Homo sapiens: one gene and its partner. The protein of the gene in region 1 purifies or fractionates together with the protein of each later gene. This does not show direct contact. Each region holds a gene or a part of one and is shown on either strand. Other genes may lie near its edges.

The links. Proteins that work in one complex are often made in the same cells at the same time.
Region 2: the proteins of KRT77 (region 1) and ARMC9 purify together in Homo sapiens (co-immunoprecipitation; one large-scale study listed by IntAct). This does not show direct contact.

Annotation. Positions count from the first base shown.
Region 1 is NC_000012.12:52,691,209-52,693,564, reverse strand, and holds part of KRT77 (keratin, type II cytoskeletal 1b), read left to right. Parts: intron 1-684; coding exon 685-810; intron 811-923; coding exon 924-1,144; intron 1,145-1,592; coding exon 1,593-1,627; intron 1,628-2,125; coding exon 2,126-2,356.
Region 2 is NC_000002.12:231,201,524-231,205,180, forward strand, and holds part of ARMC9 (lisH domain-containing protein ARMC9), read left to right. Parts: intron 1-3,657. UniProt on the Homo sapiens protein: Involved in ciliogenesis. It is required for appropriate acetylation and polyglutamylation of ciliary microtubules, and regulation of cilium length. Acts as a positive regulator of hedgehog (Hh)signaling.

The sequences.
Region 1 (2,356 bases):
ATCTGTGGCCAACTCCAATCCTGGCTGACCTCTGTCCCACGGTCCTGCACAGTGTTCTGGGGTGGAATGGATTTCGACATTAGACTAGGAAGCAGATGGCCAACAGTGAAAAATAGCAGAGTGCAGATTCCCTTGAGTCGATGCTTCTCCTACCCACTTCAGAGCCCTGTCCTGGGGGTGGAGTTCTGACTAATGGGGCAATACAGAGACAGAAACAGAGATGGAGGGGAAATGAGACTGAACGTGGAGCCAATGGAGGGCCTCTGAGGACATGAGGTCCTGCTTGACTGCTAGGGAGATCATCCTGGAAAAGGGTGGGAAGCTATATGGTGGGTGGAAAGAGTGAGGGGGTCTCAGTGTGGGTAAGGACCAACGTGAAGGCTTAGATGTGTGAAAAGGTGGTAGAAAGGGCATCACAAAGCAGGTTTGTCTGGCTGGGATGAGAGTCTGCCCAGAGACTGGTGGGAATGCGGGAGGCTTGGGATAGTGTGAGTGTGTGCATGTATACATGTGTTTGCAGCCTGGGTGAGGGAGGTTTGGTATAGCTGTGAGTATGCATGTAGGGGTGACCACAGTGCAAGGTGGGTGGGAATCTCCCAGGGGAGAGCAGCCCAGACCTACTCCCTCCTGGAGGGGCTTGTGGTGGGCAGCACATGCTGACTATGATGCTGCCTTTGGCCCCAGTACCAGGAGCTCCAGATCACGGCAGGGAGACATGGAGACGACCTGAAGAACAGCAAGATGGAGATTGCAGAGCTCAACCGCACCGTCCAGAGGCTGCAGGCAGAGATCAGCAACGTGAAGAAGCAGGTGGGACGGGTGCTTAGGGAGGGCTGACCAAGCCCTGCACCTCCTACAATGCCCTGCCAGATCGAGCTCTGGAAACTTAACCATTAAATGGTCTCCAACTGTCTCTGGAGCAGATTGAACAGATGCAGTCACTCATTTCGGATGCTGAGGAGAGAGGCGAGCAGGCCCTCCAGGATGCGTGGCAGAAGCTGCAGGACCTGGAGGAGGCCCTGCAGCAGTCCAAGGAGGAGCTGGCCCGGCTGCTGCGTGACTACCAGGCCATGCTGGGGGTCAAGCTGTCCCTGGATGTGGAGATCGCCACCTACCGCCAGCTGCTGGAGGGCGAGGAGAGCAGGTGGGTCTGGCAGCTGTGTTTCTGGGGCTAAGGCTTGAGATGCACCCATGAAGCTGTGGGACTGGCTATTTGGAGAAAAGATAAGCCCCACCTTTTTGGGAAGATTGGTAGCCCAGGGTGAGCAGAAACATTCCAATTAGAGGCAGAGGCTGTGTGAATGGACAAGCCTCTTCACATAGGGAGAAGTCATTGTTATCATTCCTCCACCTCCAAGTAGAATGTCCTTATACCCCAATCCAAGCCTCTGCAGCTGGGTATTCACCCCCAATGCTAAAAGGCTTCATGAAAACCCTGAAATTTCTCTCTGCCCCACTGGCTTCCTGACCTCTGCTCATGCACACACATTTCCCTAAGGCTTGGGGACACCTCTGATCCAGATGTCTGTGGGCCACAGCCTTCTCTCCTCAGGCCCTGTGGGTCTGGCTGACCGTGTGCTTTGGTTTTACAGGATGTCAGGAGAGCTGCAGAGCCATGTGAGCATCTGTAAGTAGCAGAGCCCAGGGGCAGAGAGAGGCTGGTGGTGCTGGGTGGAGGGAGGGCCAGGAGGTGGCCAGCAGAGAACGGAAAGTCTGGCATTTTAGCTTCCAGTCCTGTGCAATAGACACCAAAGTAAGCAAGTGTAATGGCAAAGCCTGGAAGAATTCATTTGAAATAAATGGTTATGATTTCAGGTCTGCTTATCTTAATTGTTATGATGCCTTTTTATTAAATGATGCCTAGGAGGAATCAGCAGCGGCTAGAACTCTTTAGGGTACATATTCAATAAACAATGTAAGTGTGTTGCTGAGAGGAACCCTGGCATCCCTTTGTAGTATGAAGAATACTTTTCAAGTAGGAACACTTTCAATTTTCAATGTATGGGGTTTGCAAGTCGATGCCACGGGTGATCGAGGATGGAGGAGGCTGCAGGTGCAGGGGCGGGTGCAGGTGGGGGCCTTGCCCGGTCCCTCTGACCCCGTGTGCACTGTCCCCTACCCACAGCCGTGCAGAACAGCCAGGTGAGCGTCAACGGCGGCGCGGGAGGCGGCGGCAGCTACGGCTCAGGAGGCTACGGCGGCGGCAGCGGTGGGGGCTATGGCGGCGGAAGAAGCTACCGCGGAGGCGGGGCACGAGGCAGGAGTGGAGGCGGTTATGGCAGCGGCTGCGGCGGCGGTGGCGGGAGCTACGGAGGGAGCGGCAGAAGCGGCCGCGGATCCTCGCGCGTGCAGATCA
Region 2 (3,657 bases), on another chromosome or scaffold:
TAGTACTAGTCACCTTCAAAGTCTTGCCTTCAGGCATCTGTCCCACTCTCTGCCCACTCCTTTCCATCTTTCACACTCACTGGAATGTGCCTCCTTCAGCAGGTCTCAGACCCCACTGCTTCCTCACTGCTCTGCAGCCGCCTTATGTGTGTTCCCCTCCCCCATTCTTAACCTGATTAGTTCCAGTGTCCCATCGTGGTTGTACTGTTTTCCCTTTCCTCTCTCTTCTAGAAGAACCTCTCACATTGGTTAACCTAACTCAGATAGCTGAAAGTGCCTGGAGAAGAGCTGCAAAACTGTGCAGACTGATTCCATTTTAGATTCAAGTGCAGAGATCTTAAATGGACTATAATACCAGCAACCCTGCCATGTTGCTGTAGTCGCTTTGGTTCCCACCCTCCCTTCCGTTCCCACTCTCCCTTCTCTTCGAACTGTCACCATGCTTCTTACTTGCAGCCGATGACCTTTTTTCTTTCTTTCTTTTTTTTTTTTTTTTGACAGAGTCTCACTCTGTTGCCCAGGATGGAGTGCAATGGCACGATCTCGGCTCATTGCAACCTCCACTTCCTGGGTTCAAGCGATTCTCCTGCCTCAGCTTCCAGAGTAGCTGGGATTACAGGTGCCTGCCACCACACCCGGCTAATTTTTGTATTTTTAGTAGAGATGGGGTTTTACCATGCTGGTCAGGCTGGTCTTGAACTCCCAGCATCAGGCGATCTGCCTGCCTTGGCCTCCCAAAGTGCTGGGATTACAGGCGTGAGCCACCGTGCCCAGCTGATCTTGTTTCTTGTTTCACTTTTTTTTTTTTTTTTTTTTTGAGACAGGGTCTTACTTTGTCACCTAGGCTGGAGTGCCATGGCGTGATCCCGGCTCACTACAGCCTTGACCTTCCTGGTTCAAGTGATCCTCCTGTCTCATCCTCCCCAGTAGCTGGGATTACAGGCACACACCACCACACCCAGCTAATTTTTGTATTTCTGTAGAGATGAGGTTTCACCACGTTGCCCAGGCTGGTCTCGAACTCATGAGCTCAAGTGATCTGCCTGCCTTGGTGTCCCAAAGTGCCAAGATTACAGGTGTGAGCCACTGCACCCAGCCTGTTTCACTTCTAATCACTAAATCTGTGTCTTTGCTCAGCACCCATATTCTCTGCTATCCCTCTGAATGCCGTTCCTGCTTCTCCCTTAAACTCCAGGCTCATATATCTGTAAGAATTAAAGAAAGAGGAGAGAAACACGAAGGGTGACTTGACAGTCAACAGGTTTGTTTCCTGGGTAACGGCCAAACTTCACCCTCTTACAATGGGCCTCAGTATAACAGTGGGCCTTAATAAGGACATTCTGTTCCCTTCAGGTGCACTAAGGGAAGCTAAAAGCAGACTTGGGGGGTATGCCTGCAGCTGCAGAAAGTTGTATAGGAACAGACACACAACTCTCCCTCCCAGATAAGCACAACAGAGAGACACAGAAACAGTTCAAGCCTTTGATAAACTCTCCCACCCTGAATCCTTAAAAACTCTTAGTCTGTAGGAGAGTGTGGCTCTGACCTAACTCGGTCGGAAGTCCCTCCCAGGTTTGAAATAAACCTGTTGACTGTCGAGCCACCCTTCGTGTTTCTCTCCTCTCTCCTCTTTCTTTGGTTCTTACAATACCCACTGACCATTTCGGAACCTCCACTGGAATGTCTAACAGGCAGCTCAGACTTATAGCCAAAACAGAGCTCTTGGTTTGACCTCAAAACAGTCCTTCCCCAGGTTTTCGTTGACTCAGCAAATCACATACTCTTCGGCCAGCTGCTCAGATCCCAGGGTTCTTCCTTCCCTTCTTCCCCTCATGTCCCACAACTAACTGGTCTGCAGATTGTGCCTCTTCTGCCTTTTCCATCTGGACTCACAGCGCTCATGGCCCCTCTTGCTTATCCAAATGATGCTCATGGCTGGCGTGGCCTGAGCAGTACTCATCTCCCTCTTCCCACTCCCCTCCAGTCTTCTCTGTAGAGCAGGCAACATGCATATTAAAAAATGGACATCAGCAGCCGGGCGTGGTGGCTCACCCCTGTAATCCCAGCACTTTGGGAGGCAGAGGAGGGAGGATTGAGCCCAGGAGTTCAAGACCAGCCTGAGCAATGGTGAAATCCTGTCTCTGAAAAAACCAAGGCTGGGCGTGGTGGCTCATGCCTGTAATCCCAGCACTTTGGGAGGCCGAGGCAGGTGGATCACCTGAGGTCAGGAGTTCGAGACCAGCCTGGCCAACGTGGTAAAACCCCGTCTCTACTAAAAATACAAAAATTAGCTAGGCATGGTGGCGGGTGCCTGTAATCCCAGCTACTCGGGAGGCTGAAGCAGGAGAATTGCTGGAACCCCGGAGGTGGAGGTTGCAGTGAGCCAAGATTGTGCCATTCTACTCCAGCCCAAGCAACAACAGCGAGACTCTGTCTCAAAAACAAACAAACAAAAAAAAACCTCACCAAAAACCAAACAAATGAAAAAACCAGAAAACAAAAGACTTGGGGCATAGTGGCACACTCTGTAGGCCCAGCTACTCAGGAGGCTGAGGTGGGAGGACTGCTTGAGTCCAGGAGTTTGAGGCTGCAGTGAGCTATGATCATGTCACTGCACTCTAGCCTGGGCAACAGAGGGAAACTCTGTCTCAGGAAAAAAAAAAAAAAAAAAAAAGGACATCAGTGGTGTCAGTCCCCTCCTCCATACTCTCTCTGAGCCTCCTGTTACTGTCAGCCTAATGTCCAAGCCACTTACCAGCTCTGTAAGGCCCACCTGACCTGGCCCCGGCCCCCCATTGCCTGCTGCTGTCTGCCTCACCCCTAGCTACATCCCAATACCCCAAGACTGCAGAGCTCTTCAGCCTGAGGCCTGTGCACTAACAAAGCCATCTTCCCCAGATCCAGGTGCTCAATCTTTGCTGAAATGTCACATTCCCAGTGAGGCCATCAACCACTCTATCTAAAATAACCCCATACCCGTCTCCTTCAGGTTCTGTCCCTTTCCTTGCGCTGTTTTCTTCATGTCTGGAATCAATTTCCACTCCGTCCATGTTTTTGAGCCTGTACTGTGTGCCAGGCACTGGTCTAGGCACAGGGGAACACCTGTCAGGTGCTGTTGAGAAAAATCAAGCAGTACAAAGGGCTGAGAAGTGATGGGCCGACCTCTTAGAAAGGGTGGTCAGGGCAAGACTCTCTGAGGAGGTGACAGTTAGGCAGAGACCTGAATGAGACGTATCTGAAGGAAGGGCAGTGAGCCAGAGTTCACGAGGGCAGGCGTGTGCTTTGGGTGTTCAGTGGGTGTCCACAGGAACCACACAGTGGCCAGTGTGGCTCAGGTTTACAGAACAAATGGGAGTGTGTCAGAGGCCAAGTTGTCTAGGGCTTTGGGAGTTGAGCCTAAGGAGCCTGGCCTTCATCTGGAGGGCGCTGGAACCACAGGAGGGTCCCAAGCAGGAGGGGAATGCTCACTTGTTAAAAGTGTAGAAATTGGATTGAAGTGGAGAGAAAGGAGGTGGGGAGGCAGTGGCAGAAAAATGTAAGGTTACAGACTCAGAAGAGATCTGACTGAGTGTGGTGGCTCACGCCTATAATCCCAGCATTTTGGGAGGCCAAGGCGGGAGGATTGCATTACCCAGGAGTTTGGCAGCTTAGTAAGAC